Linked DNA regions of Homo sapiens. The protein of the gene in region 4 purifies or fractionates together with the protein of the main gene of each other region. This does not show direct contact. Each region holds a gene or a part of one and is shown on either strand. Other genes may lie near its edges. The genes, in order: NCK1, NCK2, USP30 and LRFN4.

Region 1 (2,899 bases), on a different chromosome or scaffold from region 4:
CCATGTTATAGGAAAAACAGGGAGAGTAAACTGCATCTGGAGATCTCAACTAGGGGGATAAGGGTTGGGAGTGTGAAAGTTAATTATACAAATTGGGTAATTATTGTCATACCCAACCAAATCAGATTCAATGCATTAAGGGGAAAAAGTACATGAAGGACATAGCAGCTGCTCCAAGAACTCAGTTTTCCACAAGCCCAGCTACTTAAACAGACTACTGTAAACCCTAAGACCAGTTTTACCTAGTAGCTGCTGAAATGACCTGCTGTGACTCTAAGACTGGTTTTACCTATCACTGTCACACACCAATCAGAGCTTGCCACCTCCCAAAAACTTATCTAGAACCAATGAGTTTTCTTTCAAAACATACGTAACATTTCTCTTTATAATAAAACTCCCCATCTTCTCTGTTCTTTAGACATACCAAAAACTACTGTCTGTGTATATGCCCTGAATTACAATTCTTGCTTCCCAAATAAAACGTTTCAGAGATTCGTCTCTATATTTTGACTTGAAAGAAGACTTTATTATACTGTTTGAATTTTTTCACCATGTGCACTGGTAAAGATAAGAGGACCATCCATATTAGATTCCAGCTCATTGTTGACTTGTGGGAATTCAACTCATGTTATTAGCTTCTCATTTTTAAAGGGAAACAAGAAGTCTGAATTTTATGTGAAACTCCCTGATTTTTAAATGTTGGCAATTAATTTTTTAAAGCACTGTGTGGGTTGAACAACATTTCTGTATAAGGCCACTGTGTTTAGATGTACCCTGAAGAAGGTACCCCAGCAACAAGGTGGGAGTGAAATTCAAACTTCTAGAGAAGGGCTGGGCCTGCCTAGAGAATTCTCACAAACGTGCTACAGAGACTGTGACAACTCTGCTTCTATGCAACCTCTGGATTATATGGTAGGACATTACAGCTGGAGATAATTTAAGTGCCATATTCTGCAAGAATGACCTTATTCTAACAACCCAAGTTGCCCATCTGCTAGGCCTATTTATTCTTCTAGCAATGGCAATAGATTGCATGAAGCCTATTTTGTTTAGCAGTATTATTTGTCACTAATAGTGCAAGGTGCATGTGTTAACTGTATAGTGATATATGTGTAATATACATGTGTGAATATATATTCAGCTGAATCCTAAGGTTTTATGACTAAATAAGGGACACAATGGCATTTGTTTTTGTCACAAAGCTTATATCATGTTCTAAAAAACCTTCTAAGATTTTGGGGAAGTTATTTGTAGAAGTGAGTTAGGCAGGGTTCCATCTGACACATGTATTTAAATTTGAAACTAAGCATTCTCCTCATGTGGAAGAAAACTTCTGTAATATTGCCCTTCCCAGGACTCTCCTCCTAGTCTAAAACCAAGCATACACAGAGTAGTGTGTCACGATACAGACACCAGGCTGGGAATAAGGAAACTTGGTTTCTTATACAAGTATTGTTACTATCTAGCTATGTAGAGTTTTCCAGGGTTGTTTCAGTTCTTAAAGTTACTTCAAGTATTATAAAAACAGTCACTGGTATAAGCATTGGATTAAGACTTTTTAAAAATTGGTAAAATATTTAAGTACAAAATAAGTAGCTTCCAGCGAGGTTTTTATACCATAGTAAGAGCACACAATAGATATTACTAGCACACATGGGTTATCTGGGAGCGCTATAGCTACAATAAACCTAATTATGGAACAGAAATTTGCATTCTGTTTCCAGTGCTACTACACTCCTACTTTCTCAAAAGTCTGCTCTATTAATATCAGCTCAGTGCAGTTTACTATGAATAGTTTATGTCTGTGATGCAAAGCATTAATTGTTCTCTTTTTACAAACATACATTTTTTTCATAAGGAAGACTGGGGGAAAACCCAGAAACATACAGAGAAAAGGAAAGCATCATCAAATATATGTTAAAAATTAAGATGATGTTTACTACTAGTCATCCTACAACAATTTAAAGTTTTCCTCAATTTATATTCATTTGATTTTACAGCAAAGATAAGCATACATGATTTTTATTTCCATTAAAAACTTAACTACTAATAATTACCCTCAACAAAGGAGTACTGAGTTAGAAAAATAATAGAATATGAACTAAAATGTTTTAAAAGCAGATGTAATAGAGATGAAAATTTGTCTTAATTATATTTGGTCACTTCTGTTGCTTAGTGGGAGAAGCCATGGCTGCCACCCAGTGGCAACATAAGTCTTTAAATGATTTTAAGATTTAAATAATATTTAAAACATTGATAAAAAAAATTCACAAGTTACACAACTTCAATTTTACCATCAGTAATTCTGGCGTATTAGATATCTATTTATAACAGCAAAGAATTAAAACATCCATATGCTTAGGCAGCATTAGGGAATTTGTTGAAAGTATCATACGACATCCTACTCAGTTATGTGGCTTTAGTATTTTTCAATTAAAATACTGATGGCTACTTTACTTAAATTTAAATCTCCAGAATAATAGGGGGACAAATTATGACCATAAAATACAACTGGTTTTCTTCTATAGCCTACAGAAGCAGATTGGCCTCTTATCCATACACCCAAATTCCTACTTGGTTAAAAAACAAATTAAAAAATTAAAAATAATATAATTTTCCCTAACCATGAGCACATTCTATTTTTTCCTCAGGTATACATCAGTTTTAGTGTCCCAATCAACAAAACTTAAAGCTGAAAAGAGGAAATGAAAATAGGTAATACCATTCCTGACAATTACTGATATTTAGTGAGGAGAAAAAAACAAGTATCTCACTGCTTCCTGTTTTTGCAAAACTTGGCCATAACTTATTTCCCACTGGCATAAATATAACATGTCCTAATACAAGATGCTCTAGAGGTAAAATAATACAAGTGGGATTAAAAAAATAAATAACACTA
Region 2 (7,050 bases), on a different chromosome or scaffold from region 4:
AATTTGTGCTCGCGATAAGTGGGTACTTTTAGAAAAGAACAGTAGAGAGCACACTCTTTGATCCCATCTCTATGGCTTTGCCAGCTTGATCCATTGCCTCAAATACTTGCTGAAAAGCACCTTTGCAGTTTTATAAAACAGATGTCCTGATCAGATACGCCTCTCCCTCTCTCAAGATTTAATCATTGTTTTCTCATAGAAGGAAAAAAATGAATGCCGAGGACAGACTTTAATATCCTTTATTTCCTCCTCCATTCCTGAAAGCTTATGTATTAATGCGATTTTCTTCTAAGCACAATAGTCATGAGGAAACGGGAGGGAGGGGCCTTGCTCCAGGTACTTTTGGTTCTTTAAACCTTAAAACTTCTCCTTATCTTTCACTTTGGACTTTATGAAATGATGAGGGTAGAAATGCCCTTTGTGTGATTCACCAGGCCTTCCACACAGACCCTGGACTGATCTCCAGCCACGCTGAAGTCTCCAAGCATCAATAATCTACACATCTCCTTCTACCCCCAGAGAGAGGTCACCCTGTTGGTTTCTTATCACAAGTTGTATCATTCTTTTCTTTTGGTAAAGACATGTTTTTCCCCTTTTACTTCTTTACAGAAGGCACTCTTCTGTCCACAGAAGTGGTTCATTTACCTCCCAAAAGTGAGAACAAATGGGTTAGAGGCAAATCGTGATCCACTGATTAATAGTTTCTCTGTTTTTATCTCAGAAAAACTGCCTTTCAGTTTTACCATTCTATTTGGTCACCTGCCCTAGTTGTCTAAGGTAGCCTTCTTTTAATAAAAATTACTCCTGCCTATACTTATGCTGCTAGCTGTCAGTTGACCCTATGTTCTTTGTTTTTACATCAGATTATCTCTTCCTTGCCCCAAGTGTGAAGAGTCTCACCAGCTTTTCCTATTCTCCTATCAATGTTCACTCTATAAAATATTTACTCCACAGGCCTGAAGCCAATCCACACTGACATGTTCAAATATTCATCTCATTAACTTTGGAAGTAATCTTATTTACATAAATGAAAAGTCAATCATCAACTACAGAGCAGCTGTCCAAGTCCCATCTACCTAATCTAGGCAAACGGAGCGTTCCCTGTCCACTTTCCAGTTAGTATGCATGTGTGTGGTTAGCCCTCCCTATCCCCAAATGTATTTCCTAAAGTCACATGTAATACCTCACCATATAGACCTGTAGAATATTGTCCTTGTTATTCTTTGTCTTTCCATAGTGTCATACCTGATGTGACTGAGTGATACATTTAAGTCAGAATTTTACCATATTACACAACAGTATGCAAAAGGGCTTGAATCAAGTGCATACTCCACAACGTAGTGGTTCTCAAATTGGCGCATCAGAATTATTCAGGAGTTCATAGGTTCTCAGGATTTGGAACAAAAAAAGGACTCAGAGGGCTTCTTCAAACCAAGGTTGCAGAGCCCTACCCCAGAGATTCGAAGTCAGCAAGCTGGGGCAATCTGCATTCTAGCAAGTTTGCTGGTGATGCTGGATGTTGTCTGTTTTAAAGGTCAGCATTGAAGAGCCAGCCAGAGTGAGAAGGCAGAGTCTTCAAGGGCTCTGGCCCATTTGAGAATCAGAATCAGGTGATGAGCACTAAACTTCCAGATAACAGCCTGTACTGCATGATCTTGCAGGCCTTTCCATCTTCAAGAGTTAAATATGCTTAAAATTAGAACTATTACAAAAATCCAGGCTTAAAACTTCCATTTGGTACTGGGCAAAAAGCCTGGCAATTAAAAATAACTTGTTATCTTTGAAACTGGAAAGATGCCTACAGGCACTGCTCACAGCAACCTAAGGTTAAGTCATCTTAACATTAACTCATTTATGAAGAAACACCATGGATCACGGAGCCTAACCATGAAACCCTGGAAGCAGCTTTCACATTGCTCTGACAATCTACCTCCTCCTAATTCATCAGCAGAAACACAGCAAATACAGCACGTTTATTTTCAAACTCTAAACAGTAAAAAACAAACAAACAAAAACACAAAAAAGCCCCCCAAAAAACTCAACAGAAATATACTTCAAGAGATAAATCCCACTCAACAAAAGCTTCAGTTCTAAATGAAGTTCAGCTTTATGACAATATTTTTATAATTCATGGAAATGTAGTATTATGCAGAAATGGTTTTAATAACAGCTGCAAGAATATATAAAACCACTAAGAATGCATCATAGGGATCAAGGGTTTTCAAAGTGTGGTCCCAAAAGCAGCAGCATCACCACCAAGAAACGTGCTATTAATAGAAATGCAAATTCTTGGGCCCCAGACCTCCTGAATCAGTACCATTTCAGGTAGGACCCAGCAATTTGTTTTAACAAGCTTCAAGGCAATTCTGATACACACTACATACAGTTAGAGAATCATTATTTAGAGAAATGGAATGATGAAATTGCCTGAAAATAGAGTTTTGGGTAAAAGTTATAATTTCTTTAAGAAATATTATAACTTTAAAAATACAGAAAGGAGCTATTCTATTTTATTTCCCAGCCAAATACTTTTCATATATTTTAAAAAAGAGAAATGAAACAAATATGTGCATTAAATTATCCTTAGCGAGACAGTTTTTCTCTACTGGAAAAAAAAGTACTGTATGACAAAAAATATTAGTATCTAATACTATTGCAGGACATAATAAATACATGATATCTTCGGGAACTAAAATCTTACAGAGGAAAATGGCCTCCCGCACTTGCAGGCCAGCTCTGCACCTTTTCCAACCATATCCTAGTTGTGATCTGTCATTTTCTGAACAAGCTTTACAAGGATGGGAGATGCAGCAATTAAGAAAATAAAATATTGACAACTTGTACAGTTTACCAGAAACCCAGTAAAGGGTTACTGTTCATTTTAAGTACAGCTTTCTAGCCACATCCATAGAATCAATGTGGACAAAATGTAATATAAAAGGATTTATAATGGACACACACAGGGTGAGTAGGATTTCTGAGTTTTCTGGATTTAAGCAGGTATGGCTCACAGGTGAAGGTATGATAACGAAATATGGAGAATAAGCAACAACAATGCATCACCTTTAGCTGCTAAGGATAAATGACAATTGTAGATGAGAGAGGAGAGCGAGGGAGGAGGAAGAAATGGAAGGACAAGCAGTAGGTACTGAAGTTCAGGACAGGAAAGAGGGTCCAAGAGGTTCGTTCGTTTGTTGGTTCACTGATTCATCTAACATATCCAACAGATACTTCTGAAATACCCAGCACTTACTGATAGTGGATAGTGTAGCATGTGGCAATGTTTGTCTTCCCTGAAATACGCACCCCTCAATATCGTCAAGCAAGGGTCTAGCTCATTTACACTGCAATCACTCAGGATATTTTATTGAAGATCCATTCCAAAAAAAACAGCTGTGCTTATCCAGAAGCCAGGCCTCATGTGATAACCTCAATTAAAGGCCCAGGCCCAAAGACTGCAAGAAAAAAAGGAAATTAAATAAAGATGCCTGACTGAGTCCTGCAGGGAGGCTGAACCCCTCAGAAACCTTTCCATCCTGGCATGCTGCGAAGGAATTATGTCAGATCATGAACCTAAGGGCTCTTGGTGGCCTAGTGGTGGCTGCGAAAGCCAGCTCTAACCTGAGAAATGCCAAAATGAGCAGGAAAACACATGGGGACGGGGGGAGGCAGTGGATGGTGGGAAAAAAACAAGCAAAGGACTTGTCCACTTGTCCACCAGGACAGGTCCCTGGTAGTCACAGATGACAGCTGAGAACGCCTTGGTTATGAACAGGAAATACAGCAAACCTGGCATGGTTCTGCTGTCAGGAGAAAAGAAGCCACACACACACCTCAGGGCTCTTGCAGAATCCCCATGGAACAAGGCATGCACACTAACAGCTGAAAATGGCCCGTGTCACGGCAAGATCCATCAGGACAAGCTGCCCTGCACAGCATCAGGCCACGTGGAACCTCAGACAAAGACGGTGCTGCTATGTGTGCAGAGCCGATGCAAGTCCCAGTAAAGCTCTTTCCGCCCTATATTCCTAGAATCATATATGTTGTTCCTTGACTTTCTAAGTTAGGAGAGAATGCAAAAAACCCTGAAAGGCCCCCATTAAAAAACTGTTAAAAGGAAATACAAACAATTCGTGCTTTAGTTCTTTAGAAAAAGTTAGCTCATTCTCTAACAATATAAGACAACTGAGACAGTGGGGTGCAGAGTTCTGAGATGAAACCCAGACAATGCATGCATCCCTCCTTATCCAAAGGGACTTGGTCCCTGAATTCAGACAGCAATGACCACCTGTGCATGTTCCACAGAAAAGCCATAGGTCCTCCCTAAGGCCAGCAACCCCGGAGAACACCTTTTTCATCTACCCTCTAAAGTCTTTCCTCTTTTCCCCAAATCTTAGGCAGAAAGAATAATGACTGGGACCAATGTCTCCACACTGCAGGACTTCCTTCTGAGAAGTCTCCTCAAACTCAAAAAATTTTAAGCCAAGATCATATTTTGTGCATTATACTTAGCCCTTAAGGACTCTGGACCAAGCACTTAATATTGTAATTGGTTTTCCAGCGCTTTCTCTAAGTTTCTGCTCGATTGAGTTAAAAGCGCTGCTGTCCTTAATTTGCTTAAGGCTTCAAACACGATCTAAAAGAAGTGGTGCACAGAGCTCTCGTCATGTGAGAACAATTCAATGTGATGTCTTGCCAGGAATGATAAACTCTGGTGACTTGATAAATCTCAGAGTTCAGATTTCAGATGAAGTTAGCTTTCAGCCTGGCATTCCCGTCCAAGCACATGTAAGGCTCCGCAAAATTGATGACACCATAAAGGAGTCCAGTTTCCACCACCACGATGCTCCGTCCTCAAAGAGAGCACATCCCAGTCGCCTCTCTCTGGAGGGCTTTGAATGCCTCTCTGATCAGTCAACAGGACCCTTGAATGAGCACTTATTCATTGTGCCAGTAATCTTTTCAGAGGACAGCAGTGGCAGCAGGTAGTACATACTTACTAGTCTTATAGCGTGCATTTAAAAATGAAATTGAAGCCTCCTAGAACCAATACAATTCAAATACATTAAACTCTATCTCCTAAATGCTTGTTTTGGAAGTCTCTCGATTGTAGAAGGTGTATTCGGAAAGACGTTTGCAAAACTGGTCGAGTATTTCCTTCACACACGAAAAGCCTGCCTTCTGGGATGCAGGCTTGACCCCATGCCTGAAACTCACCGCCCCCAGCCTGCCCACCGCTGAACTGGGTCTGCTGCCCCAGTCGAGTGGCCTCATATCTCCGACTCACTGCACACAAACAAAACTCATCTCTCCCAAGAACCCCTGTTTTCTTTTCAATTTATCTCGTAAGTGCTTTAAAAGCTTTTGAGAGATGAACTCAGTGGCGCTGCCTGCCGTGGCAATGACCTTGGGATTATATGGTTTACAAAGAGAAAGCAAGCAAACAACAAAAGGAGGTGTCAGAAACCAGCCACCAGTCTTGCAAAGAATGCTTTCTCTGGGACACAGACCGAATAGAAACAAAGTAAATCACTCGGGCCTTCTACGTACACAGAATGGGCAACCAGGAGAGAAAATGATGTTTGAGCCTGTGAAATACAAGAGGGGGAATCTTGGGAGAGAAGCAGAACCACCTCTGTGAGCTAAAAACATCTTTTTAGTTAATCTCCCACCTCCAGAAATGGACACCCACTATCCCCAAAACAGATGCAAGTAAATCACGGAGTAGCAAACATTATACTAAATTGCATTCATCTGCGTCTCCCGCTCTTTCTAGTGTACTCACACAATGTGAAAAGGGCGCGGCACACAGACCCACCGCGCAAGGCGCATTTACTGCCTGCAGCCGGAGCTGTGGGCGCAGCGCACTTACCGAGGACTCGCTGTCCCTAATGAGGAAGTCGCCCTCCACGCCCCGCTCGTTGAGGGCGCACTCGGCCTGGTGCCGCGTCACGTTCCCGTAGTACCACTCTCTGCCCGCGAAGCGCCCGCTGGACGAGGGCCCGGTGTAGCTTATCTGTGGGGCGTGCGCAGGGTGCAGGGCAGGCCCGTCACTGAGGACCACCACGTAGTTTTTGGGGACGAGGCCCACCTGGCCCCGGGCATTTTTGCATTTCCACCACTCGGGGTCGTTCTCCGGCTTCTCAATCACCTCCATGGTCTCCCCCTTCTCGAAGTTGAGCTCCTCCTCGGTGACTGAGCTGAAGGGGTACAGCGTCTGGACCACATGCAGCACGCGGGAGCCCTGGCCATTGCTCAGCGAGGCGCCCTTGCGCAGGCTCAGGAAGCTTGGGGACTCCGCAGCCGCCTCGTCCACCTCCTCCAAGACGTAGTTGGAGGGGAACCAGCCGATCTGCCCGTTGTAGCTGCCCCGCCACCAACCGTCGCTGCACTTCTCCATGACGGTGACGCGCGACCCCTTCACCAGGGACAACTCATCCTCCCGCTCGGCCACATAGGCGAACTTGACGAAGGCCGGGATGTTGAGGTCGTAGATGCGGTCGGCGCCGCTGCCATTGGCGGGGTACTCGGCGTCCGTGCTGGGCGTGGGGGACGCATCCCGCGCGCTGGTCTTCCTGCGCGTCTTGCCGAGGCCTGTGGAGACACAGCAAGGCTCAGTGGCGCAGGGCACTTGGGCACCACCACACTCCCTAGCCTACCGGGATTTCCACGCAGTTTCTCTGGCGGTTAAATACAAGGGGACGACACATGGACAGTGCTTACAAACTGTAATTACCATGAGAAAAATACGGTTGCTGGCAGCTGCCTCCTGTAGTTGCGAAGTTACTTAAAGTTGAGAATTAAATTGATCTATTTTATCCATAAAAACATGTCACAGGGCCAGCACAGTGGCTCACGCCTGGAATCCCAGCCTTTGAGAGGCCCAGGCGGGAAGATTGCTTGAGGCCAGGAGTCTGAGACCAGCCTAAGCAACATAGCGAGACCGTGTCTGCAAAAAAAAAAAAAAAAAAAAAAAAAAAAAAAATTAGCCACCTGTGGTGCACATCTGTGGCCCCAGCTACTGGAGAGGCTGAGGTGGGAGGATGGCTT
Region 3 (7,050 bases), on a different chromosome or scaffold from region 4:
TTCTCAGCAAACTAGGAACAGAAGGGAAGTTTGTCAGTATGATAAAGAGGTATACTAAAACCTAAAGCTAATATCATACTTAATTATAAAACACCAAATACTTGCTTCAGAAGATTTGAAACAAAGCAAAGATGTCTGCCATCATCACTCTTATTTAACTTTGTACCATAAGTCTTAGCCAGGATAATAAGGCAAAGAAAAAAAAAAAAAAGGAATAAAGATTGGGTTGGAAAGGAAGAACTAAAACTATTTCTATTCATAAGCAACATGACTGTTTGCATACACAGAGAATGCTAAGGAATACATAACAAAACTTCTACAGCTTCTAGAAGTAATAAATGAATGTTTACAAAAATCTCAAGATATAAGGTCAATATATAAACAGCTGTATGTCTATATACTAGTGGCAAACAATTTGAAAATAAATTTTTTTAAATTCCACTTACAATAGTATCAAAATAATGCACGGAAAAAAGAGATGAATAGTCAACTTATAGATTACAGTTCCTTAACATATCTTACATATCTTTTAATATATGAACCTTATTTTTAAAAAGACCATTCAACATATTAGTCTTCAAGGTAATGTCACTCAGAACCGCAATGACACAGCAAATGAAACAATCAACAAAATGAAAAGGCAACATATGGAATGAAAGAAAATATTAGCAAACCATATATCTGATAAGAGGTTAATATCCAAAATTGAATACTTGAAATACACTAAAAGAGTGTTTATAAGGAACTCATATGGACCAACAGCAAAAAAAAAAAAAAAAAGAAAAAGTAACATGATTAAAAAATGGGCAAAGGAGCTGAACAGACACTTTGCAAAAAAAAGACATACAAATGGCCAGTGGGTATATGAAAAGGCACTCAATATCACTAATCATCAGGGAAATGCAAATAAAACCATAAAGAGCTATCACCGCACACCTGTTAGGATGGCTATTACCAAAATGACAGCATGTGGTCAGGCACAGTGGCTCATGCCTTAATCCCAGCACTTTGGGAGGCCGAGACAGGCGGATCACTTGAGGTTGGGAGTTCAAGACCAGCCTGGCCAATATGGTGAAACCCGATCTCTACTAAAAATACAAAAGATTAGCTGGGTGTGTTGGCGGGTGCCTGTAATCCCAGCTACTTGGGAGACTGTGGTGGGAGAATTGCTTGAACCCAAGAGACGGAGGTTGCAGTGAGCCAAGATGGCACCACTGCACTCTAGTTTGGGTGCAGCAGAGCGAGACTCTGTCTGAAAAAAAAAGACAGCACGTAACAAGTGTTGCCGAGGGTGTGGAGAGAAGGCAACTCTTGCATACTGTTGGTGGGAATGTAAATGGAAAACAGTATGAAGGTTCCTCAAAAAGTTAAGAATAGAACTATTATATGAACTAGCAATGCCACTCCTAGGTATATATCCAGAGGAAATGAAATCAGTATCTCAAAGATACATCTGCAAAACAATCTTCATTGTAGCATTATTCACAATAGCCAAGATATGGAATGTCCACAGACAGATGAATGAGAAAATGTGGTATACACATATAATGGAATATTATTCAGCCATCAAAAAGGAAGTCCTACCATCTGTGACAACATGGATGAACCTGGAGGACATCTGCTATGTGAAATAAGCCAGATATAGAAAGATAAACACCACCTGATCTCATACCTATATGGAATCTAGAAAAGTCAAACTCACAGAAGCAGAGTACATGCTGGCTGCCAGGGGCTGGGGAGGTGGGGAGATGTTGCTCAAAGATGCAAACCTTCAGTTATAAGACGAATAAGTTCTGGAGAGTTAACGTACAGCATGGTGACTACAGTTAATAATACTGTATTGTATTCTTGAAATATACTAAGAGAGTGTTCTCACCACATATGAGCACAGGTGCACGTGCACACACACACACACAGTCATACATCAAATCTTCACTTTGTACACCCTAAATATATACAATTTTTATTGTCGATTAGATCTCAATAAAACTGGGGGAAAAAGCCACAGTGAGATACTACTTTGCACTCAGTAGGATGGCTAGAACCTCAATGTTAGACAGGACCTAGAGAGTGGGCTGACATCAAAATGTGGGTGAGGCTGTGAAGAAATTGGAACCCCTCATACACTGCCGGTGGGAATGAAAAATGGCATAGCCACTTTGGAAAACAGTCTGGCAGTTCCTTAAAAGGTTAAACAAAAGAGTTACCATATAAGCTAGCAATTCTACTCTGAGGTATATACCCAACTGAAGTGAAAATATATGTCCACACAAAAACTTGTATGTAAATGTTCACAGCAACATTATTCATAATGGCCAAAAAGTGTTAACAATCCAAATGCCCATCAACTGATGAATGGATAAAAATGTTGTAGATCCATGTAATGCAATATTATTTGGTAATAAAAGGAACAAAGTACTGATTCATGCCAAAATATGGAAGAAACGTGGAAATATTATGCTAAATGAAAGAAGCCAGACACAAAAAGCCACACATTACATGATTCCATTTATATGAAGCATCCAGAATATGCAAATCCATAGAGACAGAGGTAGATTCATGGTTGACAAGGGTAGGGTGATGGAAAGGATGGGGAGAGGTTGCTAATGAGTATGGAGTTTCTTTAGGGGGCAATGAAAATGTTATAAAGTTGACTGATCCCGGAGTCAGTAATGGCTGTGAAAAAATAAAATAAAATAAAATGGATTGGGGTGACAGTTGTACAATTCTCTCTTTTTGTATGATGTTGGAAATTTTCCATAATAAAATATTATTTTAAAACCTCAAAAGTAAAGGGGAAAAAACCAGCCCTAGAATCTACTGTGTCCACCATGAGCATAGACTCAACCACTGGACTCAAGAGCCTGCCAATCCACAGTGGGTCTGTTGTCCTTGGTGCAGAAGATGCCATCTGACCTCAAATGACATGCTGACACTGACCAAAGTGGGGTAGTCAGTCCACTAGTGTGCAGAGGCCAGGTAGTCTCTAACACCAGTGACCGATGTCAGCCCACTCTCTAGGTCCTTTCAAGAATCCTAACTTTTGGAAAACCTCTCCCGGAAATATCAAGTGTTGGTATTGTATTTACCTGGTGTTCACAGTGTTTGCAGACCATATTACTAGTGAGTCTTCCATGAAAAGGATGTTGAGACTTCCAGTGATTGGATGTAGGGTGAGGTGACCCTGGAATGCAAAAAGTTTTTTGATATGTCACTTTTAGCCCTTTGGCACCAAGCTCAACATTCATCTTCCTTTCTAGCATGTGGTAGAAACTACCTCTTAAGAAAAAATATTCTTGAAAAGTACATTGAAATAGCTTTCCTCATTGACTTCCATCCAAAAGACATCCCATTCCTTCATAGGAGAATTTACACAGATCTATCTTTATATACGGTTTCTGTATAATGGGTAGAGCCACATTTTAAAAAGGAATTTGTGTTGAATAATGTCTTTTTACAAACATATGCTTAAAATGTTTGAGATGTCAAAAGAAGGATACCACAAGTGAACATTCCATAAAGCGAGATAAAATCTTCTGAAATAAACAGAATAAGCAAGTTCTGAATAACTAGGCCTTTCTTTGGCTAGAATGGGGTTTAATGGAAAGAACATAAGTGAGAAACCTGGGCTCTGGAGTTGTGCAGCCCAGGGATCAGCTCTGGCTGTGCTTCTTATTCACTACCTGACCTGGGAATGCCTTTAATCTCTACAAGCCTCAGTGTGCGGAAAATTGGGATAGTTATTATCCCATTAACTCCAGTATCATCAACTTTGTAGAGTTGTTATGAGGCTTAAATGAGATAATGCAATGCCTGGCAAACAGCATGGGCTCAAAAAATATTTGTTCCTATTACTACACAGAGGAATTAATATGCTAATCTTATTTTTTAAGTCTTAAGAAAACAACAATTTCCTCCTAAGGATGACTGTGGTAATATGCAATAGAATTTGGCAGCACTGGAAATGCTGAGGACACGACAGATTCAGCTCATTATGTTCTTCCCAGGATCAATTCAAAAAGGTAAAAAGAAAGCCCTTGTTTGAAGTACAAATAAGCCAGTTTCAAGAAAAGTCAGCTGGGCTGGGGTGCAAGGGAACACCAAGAGAATCTATTTAAAGCTATTTCCAAAATACAAGTTCCTTTGCAAGCACATCACACTTCAAGCTGGCCTGTATGTCACCAGAAAAAAATCTTTTTAAAACAAGCAAATTATTATCATATCTTAAAAGTCCACATCTTATGTGTTATATTTCAATGGAAAACAGCTACCTCTTGTGCGGCAGGTAATTTGTTTGGGAGTTATTTCTGACTGCTGCTGTAGGGGAGAAAAAAAAAAAACAGACTGAAAACCTTACTATAATCCCTTTCACCACCCTCACCCCACCCCTAAACCTTACAAGTTTCTACGTTGATTACACCACTAAAAATCAACTTTTAACAAAGCTCAGGTTTCTAAAGGTAGCCTCAATTAGCCTATCTGGCTGGATACTATGAATATTCTTTCATCAAATGCAATAGAAACATATTTCTTCTCTCCAGAATATTTTCATCCTTACTGGTTAACTTTTGTCAACTCCTCCGATATTTATACTGTTACAGGGAAATGAGGGCTCACTTAGCATTCCTATGGCCCCTGTTCCCCTGTATTAAACAGGAAAAAATAACACATTCTTTATTCTCAAAGCCAACACAAATTGCAGCAATGAATCATTTGAAAGAGCCTTGACATCCCTAATCAGATCACCAACTGCAAAGCATGTAGTTTTAAGACCCTCCCCTGGCCTCATTCCCACCACTGATTTTTACTGAATCTTACTTTTAAAGTTGTACAAAGATTACACTTGCCTCCCCTATACTTATTAAATATGCACAAGCTGCACAGAACGTGTTGGAAATATTAATGGTTTACCTCCAGGGAATGCACATCAAACAAATGTGTGACCCGAGGCTGGCGGTCTCGCTCATCTTCCAATGACGAGGTAATGACATGGAATAATTCGTGAGCATCCTGTCATAGGGCAAAGCATTCTTTAGAGAGGTTGGAAGAGGCAAGAGCAAGATCAGAACTACCCACCTCGGGCAGACACCCTACAGTGAATGTGGGTAGAATTTGCTTTCTACCTTCTCAAGGCCCAGCTCATTAAAGAAAACAGTTATGTCCTGGACACTGTCACGAGTGAAGACCCTCAAGCAAGAGGTCCAGGAGCAGAGAGCAGGAGAGAAAGCCAGGTGGCTGCCTTCACGCCAGCAGTCTATGAGACCATTCTGTTTCACTGAGACAGCCTTGACCTCCACTCCGATTTCAAAAGATTATGTTTTTTGTTAATTGTGGTAAAATACACATATCATAACATTTATCATCTTAACATGAATGATTCTGTGGCATTAAGTACATTCATGTTGTTGTACAATCATCACTGCCATCCATCTTCAGAACTTTCTCATCTTCCCCAGCTGAAACTCCATATCTGTTAAACACTGATTTCCCATTTCCCCTTCCCCAACCCCTGGCACCCACCATTCTTTATCTCTCTAGGAATCTGATTACTCTGGGAACCTCACACAAGTGGAATCATACAGTGTTGGTCTTTGTGACTGGCTTATTTTCCTCGGCATAACGTCTTCAAGCTTCACCTATGTTGTAGCATACTGCAGAATTTCCTTCCTTTTTAAGGCTGAATAATATTCCATTGTATGAAAGTTTTGTTTACCTATTTATCAGCCGATGAACACTTGGGTTGCTTCTACCCCTTGGCTATTGCGAACATGCTGCTATTAACCTGAGTATACAAATACCCTACTGAGTCCCTGCTTTGAATTCTTTTGGTTTGTACCCAGCAGCGGGGTTGCTGGATCCAATGGCATGGGACTACTCTTGAAGGATCAACTCAAATGGCTCTCTCCCCAAAAACCCAAGCCACCCCTCACTCTTCCGGGAGTAACGGGGTCACAACACAGGCCCTCTGCTTCTCCTTTGGTGTCCCCTCACACTGCCACCAGAGCAATACTTTAAAAGGCAGATAGCTTTACTCTTCTGCTTTTAGCTTTCCAATGGCTTCCACTACTAGAGTAAAACCTACCATTCTTATCTGGCCTACAAAGCCCCCAACATTCACAATGTCCCGGCCCCTGGCCTCTTTGCTGTTCCTTGAACATATCCAGCTTATTCCCATTTCGGGCTGTGCTCAGACCTTCGCACGGCTACCTCCTATCCTTCAGGTCTCTGCCAAAAGAGCTCCTCCACAGGGCATACTCCCCAACCAATTATCCAAAGCTGCCTCCACCCCTCTGAACTCTAACCCACCCTCAGCCAATTCAGCAGCAGTCCTGAAAAAAGGACCCTCCTCCAAAATACGCCCTAAATTCCTGAGGACTCTCAGCTACCCTGCTTCGACCCCAGTCTGAGCCACACCATCTCGGCCAGATAACTGCAGCGGCCTCCCACCTTTCCTCTCGGCTTGCATTCTTGCCCCTCCAGCCTTCCTTTTCTAACAAGTCAGATCAAACCAGTCCCCAGTTCAAAGTCCTCTAGTGGCTCCCCGCTGCAAACACAATAGAAGCTGATGCCGCCCGCAGCCTCCTAGTCCCTGCACAATCTGCTCCCTGCCAACTTCGCCAGCCCCTCTCCTCCACCGCCCTCCCCGCCCTGGCCTCCCTGCCATTCTCCACAGGTGGCAGCTTTATAACCATCTCCAGACTTATACCCTAGCTTCTTCATCTGTCTGGAATGCTCTGTACCCAGGTGTCCACACACTTCACTCTCTTTTATACTTCCGGTCTCCGCTGAAACCTCACCTCCTGAGAGGAGCCTCCCTACCTGGAGCAGTCTCCCCCTGTAGCTTGGCTCCTCCTCCTCTGCCCTCCCTATCCATGCCATGTTACACCAGCTAGTTTCTTGTTAGCATATCCTGAAATCCCCTGCTTACTGTCTGCACCGACCCCTGCCTGCTATCCTCATCCCCCACTGGAATACCAGCTCTAAGAGAGCAGGAAACTCCTGCAAGTCATGTCTGCTGCTACGACTCCATTGCCCTCGACAGTCCCCACC
Region 4 (7,035 bases):
TGGCTCCGTCGGGCCCAAGCTCCTCCCAGGCGCCTGGCATAACCGTAGCACCCGGCATCTCCCAGGTCCAGAGAGCAGCTGCGCTGCGGCCGGGGCGGGGGGCTCCGCGGCGGGTGGGCCTTGGGTGTGGGGCTGGGGCCTCCATTGGTCTGGGACTGGACGTGGCTGAGCTTGAGGGGGAGGCGGCCATTTCCGGCCCCCCGGCCCCGAACCAGCAAGGCCACAGTGAAGACCAGTAAGGCAGCCACCAGCACACCCCCCACGGCCACGGTCAGGGTCCCGCCCAGCACGTGGGCCTGCAGGGCGTGGCACAGGGGCGAGGCCGGCAGCGTGGAGAAATGGGCACAGCCCAGCAGCCTGGTGGCCGTGAGGTCAGAGGGCCCAGCGGCCGGTGACAAGGCCAGCAGGCAGAGGTCATAGTCAGCGCCGGGGACGAGGTGCTTCAGCAGGAAGTGGTGGCTGGAGGCTGGGACAATCCTGCAGGCAAGGGCAGGTGGTCAGAGCCCGGGGCTGGGGTCTAGCCCCATCCTCACCTCCCCACTCCCGTGCTCCCAGCTCCAAACACCCCTCCCCCTGGGGCCACTCGGGCTCTTGGGTTCACTCAGGAAGGTGAACAGGCTGGAGAGTGTGGCCAGGAGATGGGTGTGTGCACTGGCACAGGACGCAGGCAAGCGAGGGGAATGGGGTGGGGGGATGGCACCAGCAGAGGCAGAAATAACACGCGGGCGCGGGCCATGTGCTTCAGACAGACCCAACCGCCACCTGCTGCCGGGGAGGCCTGCACAGCTCAGTGACACCTGGGACATCTCGGGGTGGGGTCCTTCTGCCGCCCCTTGAGCTCCAGCCCCCTCAGGCAGCCAGGCCAGGCCAGGCCACTGCTCCTCCAAGAGTCCAGCAGCCATGGTCGGGGAGGGGGTGTCAGCCCCAGAGAGAGGAGGGGTGGAAGCAAAGCCTTGTGGGGAGCAGAGGGCGGAGGAAGGGCGCCGGGAGTGCAGCCGGGTGTGGGGCACGCATCCTCACCGGTAGATGAGGGTCTCATCTTCGCTGCTGTTGTACTGGATTTGGAACATCCACACTGGGTCGGCTGGCCGCCCGGGACCCCAGCTCACCAGCCCTGAGGTGGCGGTCACCTCCGTCACCTGCACGGCTGGCTCAGACTCCAGCGTCCCCTCACCCTCGGCAGCAGTGCGAGCGGAGGCGGCGATGTCCGAGGGCCCGGGGCGGCCCCCCTCGGCACTGCTGTTCCCACCATGGGGCAAGGCCAGCACCCGCAGTTCTACTCGGGCTGTGGCCTCACCAGCAGGGTTGGTGGCGATGCAGGTGTAGCCCCCAGCGTCCCCAGCGCCGGTCACCCCAATCTCTAAGGTCCCGTTGGGGAAAGCCCGGGCTCGGGAGGAGTTGCCAACCAACCGGTCGTCAGGACCGACCCAGTGCATGGTAGGCGCGGGGTCACCCAGGGCCCGGCACCGCAGCGTGGCCCGCTGGCCTTCCAGCACCCAGAGGCGCTGCGTGTGGCGGGCAATGAGGGGCGGCTCACAGGAGAACTCGCCCTCGGGCACTGCCCAGAAGTAGCGGCCGGCCAGGCCGGGCGGGGAGGCGCACGTTTCCAGGTCGTCCGGCCGCGCCAGCCGCCGCAGCCACAGCAGCTCACAGTTGCAGTGCAGGGGGTTCCCGCTAAAGCTCAGCACCAGGGGGGCGGGAGAGGCCTCTGCATCACGCCCACGAGAGAAAAGCGGGTCCGGAGCCAGCGTGGCCAGGCGGTTGGAGGTGAGGTCCAGGCGGGAGAGCTGACCGAGCTGGGCGAAGGCGCCTGGGGGCAGTGCGTCAATAAGGTTATGGTCCAGGTTGAGGGTGTGCAGGGCAGGCATGGCGCCGATGCCGGCCCAGGGCACCTGCCGGAGGTTGTTGTAGGACAGGTCCAGGTCCTCCAGGCTCTCTAGGAAGTCGTCGAAGGCTCCCGGCGCGATGCGGCCCAGCTGGTTGCCGCTGAGGATGAGGTGCTGCAGATTGACGGGGCCCCGGAGGCTCCCGGTGCCCAGCTCCACCAGCCTGTTGCCGTCAAGGTGGAGGGAACGCAGGCTCTCGAGGTCCCCAAAGGCGCGGGCCCCAATGCGGGTGATGGCATTGCGAGACAGTGTCAGGTCCACCAGTCCCGTCATGTTGCGGAAGTCAGGGGGCCCCAGGGCCTGGATGAAGTTGTCAGCCAGCCGCAGCTCCACTGTGCGCCGGTCCACGTTGGGCGGCACAAACAGCAGGCCTCGGTGGGCACAGAGGGTGCTGAGCGACTCGGACAGGTTCTGGCAGACGCAGGGCAGCGGGCAGGCGGCCGCTCCACTGGCCAGCAGCAGCAGCAGGAGCGGCGGGGCCATGGTGAGCGCCCTGTAGGAAGGGGCCACAGCCCAGGCACAGGTGGGGCTGGCGCAGGTGCCCACTTGGGCCCAGGACAGTCCCAGAAGCCAGCTTCTGTGAGCCTGGCCCGGGGAGGGGCTGGGTCAGAGGCCCAAGAGGGCCGCCAGAGATGAGGGAAGGTTGGGGCCTGCAGGGCCAGGCCCCCCAGAGCAAAGGTCACATTTCCCAAGCAGTTAAGGGGGAGTCCAGGCGCTGGGGACAAGGTGAGGCATGAGGCAGGAAGCGGAGGAGGACCGAGAGCAGGGAGGGTCCCGGAACTTCCTTTCCCAGGCGTCCCCAGGAATCGCCAGCCGCCTCCCCACTCCCCGCCATACCCTCCCCCGCCAGAGAAGGCGCCCCCCGAACCTCCCGTGGAGTCCGTGGCCCCTCCCTGGCCGGCCCCCGCGCTGCGCCCGGCGGCCCCCTCACCTGGTGTCCGTCGCTCAGGGGGCGCGGGCCGGCCTCCCTGCGAGCCCGGCCGGCCCCCGCCGACTCCTGGCCGCTCTCCCGCGGGGACGAGGCCCGGGGATGACCGGCCGCCCGCCGCCCACCCTCGGGCCCATGGCGCTCGGGCCCGCGGCCCCGGCTCGCTCGGTTCCCGGCACCTTTTCCCGGCGCGGTTAGCGGTGGCGGCGGCGACAGGCGAGCGGGTGCGCGCCGGCGGGCGCGCGCGCCGCGGACACGCACGTGGAGGGCGGACGGGGAGGGGCGCGCGGGGATCCACCCGGGCCCGGGCCGGCTCCTGAGGTCACGGGGACACGCGGCCGCTGCAGCGCCCACGGGTGGCGCCCAGTCACGCCCGAGGCCCGGGCCGGCGCGGGCCCTCCGCGCTGTCCCCCGGCGCTGCCGCAGCGCACTCACCCTGGCACAGGCGCGCGCGCCCCCGGCCATCCTGGCGCCCCGGCATCCTGCACCGCACGGGCGCCCGCCGCCGCGGCGCGAACCTCACTCTGCAGACAGCCAGACAAAGCGCCTGCTCGCGGGCCCCTTCACCATCTCCCGGAGACGGGCGTCTTTGTCACATGTCGCTGGGCACCCTCCCCAACACACCCACACATGCCCACACACCCACACGTCCCTGCACCCACGGGCAGGGCCGAGCGCAAACCCGCACTGTTGCTGGGACCCTTGCGTTCACAGACACACGCTGAAGGTCATAACCGTTCTGCATCACCGAGTCACGTGGAGGGTCCCCAACCGGCACGGGGTTCGGCCGTGGGGGGGGCTGGGGCGGCGCCCCTGGCAGGGCTGCTGCGGGGTGGGGCCGAGAGGGCTTGGCCTCCGGGCAGGCGCCCCGCCCCCGCCGCCCCGCCCTGTCCCCAGCTGCCTCTCGCCTCTCCCTCCCTCCCCAGCTGCCCCGCCCGCCCCGCGGGCCAGGCGTTCCGGAGCCAACCGGCCTCCGCCTCGGGCCGGATTGGTCTGCGCGGCGCGGCTTCCCAACCGCCGGGGGCACGCATTGGGAAGCTGTGCGTCCTCGCAGCGCCTGCGGCCCCTCCCTCCCGCTCTGTCGCCGCCGGGCCATTTCCCTGGAAGAGCGGCTCGGAACCAGCTCCTCTCAGAGAAAGGGCTCCCGGCGTGAGGTGGGGGAGGTTCTTTGCTTCCTGGTTGAGAAAGCTGGGGCTTCGGTGGCTCGGCGAGCCTGGTTTCCTTCCAGCTGTGCCCGCCACCACCAGTGGTCTGCCCAGTTGGGAAACAGGAAGTCACCACCTCCCCGTGTCTCCTGGTCCTTAAGCCACCTAAACCTCAGCCATCCTCGTTCTCCCTCCAGCCCTGATCCCCATGGGCCAGGTGGCAGGAAACTCGGGGAAACCCAAGATTGGAATTCTGATCCTGTCAGCACAGCAGTGTAGTCCTGGGCACGTTACCTGACCACTGAAAACAAGTTCCTCCTGTAGGCCAGGAGAGTTGGATGGTACATACATAAGCATTTCCTAGGGGCGAGAGGGGAGGACAGCTGCAGCTTGTGAGGGGCTTACAGGCAGCCAGAAGCCATTCTGTCACCACTCACTGGGCCTCAGCTGTGGCGTTTGTAAAATGAGGGGGATTCAGTCCTGGTGCAGGTCAACTCTGATGTGCAGTGGCACCAGCTATGTCTTTGTTCCTCTTCTCCCCATCAAAAATGTTTTCCACCGGGTGCAGTGGTTCATGCCTGTAATCCCAGCAGTTTGGGAGGCCGAGGCGGGTGGATCACTTGAGGCCAGGAGTTCCAGACCAGCCTGGCAAACATGGCGAAACCCCATCTCTATTAAAAATACAAAAATTAGCCGGGCGTGGTACCGCATGTCTGTTGGGATGAGGCACGAGAATCGCATTAACCAGGGAGCCACAGGTTGCAGTGAGCTGAGATTGTGCCACTGAATTCCAGCCTGGGCGACACACTTTGTCTCAAAAAAAAAGTTTTCATTCACTCTAAATATAGATGTTTACCAGCATCCACCATGGCCACCCAGTGCTGGGAGCCGGGTTCATCAGGAACCAGATGGGCCTGGTTCCTGCCCCCATAGAGCTTACAGTATGGAGGAGAGGATGGGCAACCCGACAGTCACAAAGGGGAGACTCAGTGGGGACCCTCCACATGACTCGGTGATGCAGAACGGTTATGACCTTCAGCGTGTGTCTGTGAACACAAGGGTCCCAGCAACAGTGTGGGTCTGCGCTCAGCCCTGCCCGTGCAGGTTCCTCAGCGGCCTGCTGGAAAGGTGAGCATCAGCTCTGCCGAGGGTGTGAGGACAGGGCGAAGGCCTCCAAGGGTCCTTCTCACTCTGCGCGCTCGGGGCTCTTTGGATGGTTTCATTAGCTGCCTCCCTTCTCCAGTGCCATGCCTTGGCCCAGCTGAAATGTCAGCATCTCTTCAGGAGAGGCAGGGGCGAGGCTCAGGGGCAGACAGGCACAGCACTGCTGGCGGGGTCCCACTCTGTGGTGAGCACCTGACAGGCTGGTGGGGGAGGCACCCTTCCTGTCCAGGCCTCCAGGTAATAGGAGCCTAAGAGACGGAGAGCTCAGAGGAGTCTGGGTGGCCTTGAGTCCCTGTTGAAGGTGCCGACAGGGATCATGAATAAGTGACGCGTGGAGGTGTTTTCTTCGCGGTGGAAGCCAGGGCTGTCGCTACACAGCCACAGGCCATGCTTTCACAGGTCTTGGAGCACCTGTCACAGTGCTGGCTCGCATGTCCCCGTTTAAGTCATACTCACCCTGGCCCAGCCTCATGTTGTCACCCAGGCATTTAATGAGTGGAACCGAGGGCCCCTGTGCACAAAGTGCACTGACACATGCCTCAGGCAGCACCCTGCCCCCAAGGGTTCCCAGGCAGACAAGCAGAGGATGAAGCCGATGGGTGTGCTTGCCCACAGCGGGTTCCTCAGGGGACTGCTGGAAAGGTGAGTGTCAGCTCTGCCGAGGGTGTGAGGACAGGGCGAAGGCCCTTGAGAAGTTCAGGGAGAGCTTCCCAGGCAGGTGCAAAGGTGTGGAGCGCAAGGCAAGTTTGATGTGGCTGGAGGTGGCCACAATGAGGAAGGCGGTGGAGGGTGTGGCCTGGAGATGGAGAAGAGGTCACAAGGTCCCAAAATGGCCGTGGTCGAATCCTCTGGCTTGACCAGTGGCATGGGAGGAGTGGGTGATGAGGGTGATGGGATGCAGGTTTTGGTAACTGGGGGGACAGTGGGGCACCCACTGGGCACAGGAGGACTGGGTGCATAGGCAGGAAGCTGGCCGTGGACTTGCTGAACTTATGCGAGGGGTGAACAAGGAAAGGCCCGGGAGGCAGTTGCACCTCTGGGTCTTGCCCTGGAGGCAGAGCCTGTCACTGGCGCCACAGCCCCGGGACGGGGCCTCCTGGGGAGCATGTGGTGTGTGAGGAGCTGGGGAGGAAGAGGACAGGAGAGCAAGATGGCTTGGAAGCCCAGGGAACGAGCAGCAAGGCGGGAGCATGCCCGCTGGACTCAGCTGGGAGGAGTGACTTAGAGTGCCAGAGTGTGGTCTGTTGCGGTCAAGGCCCTCTTTCGAGAAGCGTGGACGAGGGGCAAGGGTGACTGCTGTGGGCCACGCTGCTGGAGAAAAAGGCTGAGCCCTGTTCTAGGCTGCGGGGAGGCAGGAAGGGTGGCCTTCAGCACATGCTTTGGTGTAAACAAGTATGGAGGGAGCAGGCCCAGCCCGTGACAGCTTAGGGGGCTCTGCTGGAGTGAGGAGAGGGCTGAGGGACGGGGAAGTGCCCCTCTGCAGGGAGGCCCAGAAGCTGTGCTGGCCCAGGGCAGCATCTTCAGCCTTTTCTCTTTCAGCCTTTTCTCCTCTGCCTTCCCTGTCTGTGCTGCATGGTGACCCCCTCCCACCCGCCTCTGTCCTGCAGACCAACATCGCCTTCCTGCAGAATGTGCTCAACAACCAGCAGTTCCTGGCAGGCACTGTGGACACCCAGTTCATCGACGAGAACCCAGAGCTGTTCCAGCTGCGGCCTGCACAGAACCGGGCCCAAAAGCTGTTGCACTACCTCGGTCTGGCCCGAGACTGCCCTGCCCTGCCCTCCCCTCCCCTCCGCTCTCCAATCTCTTGCTCCTACCTCCTTGCCACTCCCCATGACCAAAGAACTCCTTAGTGCCCCCTGCCCCTCACCCCTGCCCTCATTCTGGCCCTGCGTCCTCTTGTCCTGCACCC

What was found.
Region 1: the proteins of LRFN4 (region 4) and NCK1 purify together in Homo sapiens (co-immunoprecipitation; 3 studies listed by BioGRID and IntAct, with this or other methods). This does not show direct contact.
Region 2: the proteins of LRFN4 (region 4) and NCK2 purify together in Homo sapiens (co-immunoprecipitation; 4 studies listed by BioGRID and IntAct, with this or other methods). This does not show direct contact.
Region 3: the proteins of LRFN4 (region 4) and USP30 purify together in Homo sapiens (affinity purification with mass spectrometry; 2 studies listed by BioGRID and IntAct, with this or other methods). This does not show direct contact.

The regions. Positions count from the first base shown.
Region 1 is NC_000003.12:136,949,208-136,952,106, reverse strand, and holds the end of NCK1 (SH2/SH3 adapter protein NCK1), read right to left. Parts: 3' UTR 501-2,899; downstream 1-500. UniProt on the Homo sapiens protein: Adapter protein which associates with tyrosine-phosphorylated growth factor receptors, such as KDR and PDGFRB, or their cellular substrates. Maintains low levels of EIF2S1 phosphorylation by promoting its dephosphorylation by PP1.
Region 2 is NC_000002.12:105,880,872-105,887,921, reverse strand, and holds part of NCK2 (cytoplasmic protein NCK2), read right to left. Parts: intron 6,595-7,050; coding exon 5,873-6,594; intron 1-5,872. UniProt on the Homo sapiens protein: Adapter protein which associates with tyrosine-phosphorylated growth factor receptors or their cellular substrates. Maintains low levels of EIF2S1 phosphorylation by promoting its dephosphorylation by PP1.
Region 3 is NC_000012.12:109,069,572-109,076,621, reverse strand, and holds part of USP30 (ubiquitin carboxyl-terminal hydrolase 30), read right to left. Parts: intron 5,011-7,050; coding exon 4,912-5,010; intron 4,318-4,911; coding exon 4,272-4,317; intron 3,185-4,271; coding exon 3,090-3,184; intron 1-3,089. UniProt on the Homo sapiens protein: Deubiquitinating enzyme tethered to the mitochondrial outer membrane that acts as a key inhibitor of mitophagy by counteracting the action of parkin (PRKN): hydrolyzes ubiquitin attached by parkin on target proteins, such as RHOT1/MIRO1 and TOMM20, thereby blocking parkin's ability to drive mitophagy.
Region 4 is NC_000011.10:66,853,079-66,860,113, reverse strand, and holds the start of LRFN4 (leucine-rich repeat and fibronectin type-III domain-containing protein 4 precursor), read right to left. Parts: upstream 3,051-7,035; 5' UTR 2,370-3,050; coding exon 1,021-2,369; intron 478-1,020; coding exon 1-477. Other genes in the region: PC (pyruvate carboxylase, mitochondrial precursor), read left to right, coding at 6,731-6,875. UniProt on the Homo sapiens protein: Promotes neurite outgrowth in hippocampal neurons. May play a role in redistributing DLG4 to the cell periphery.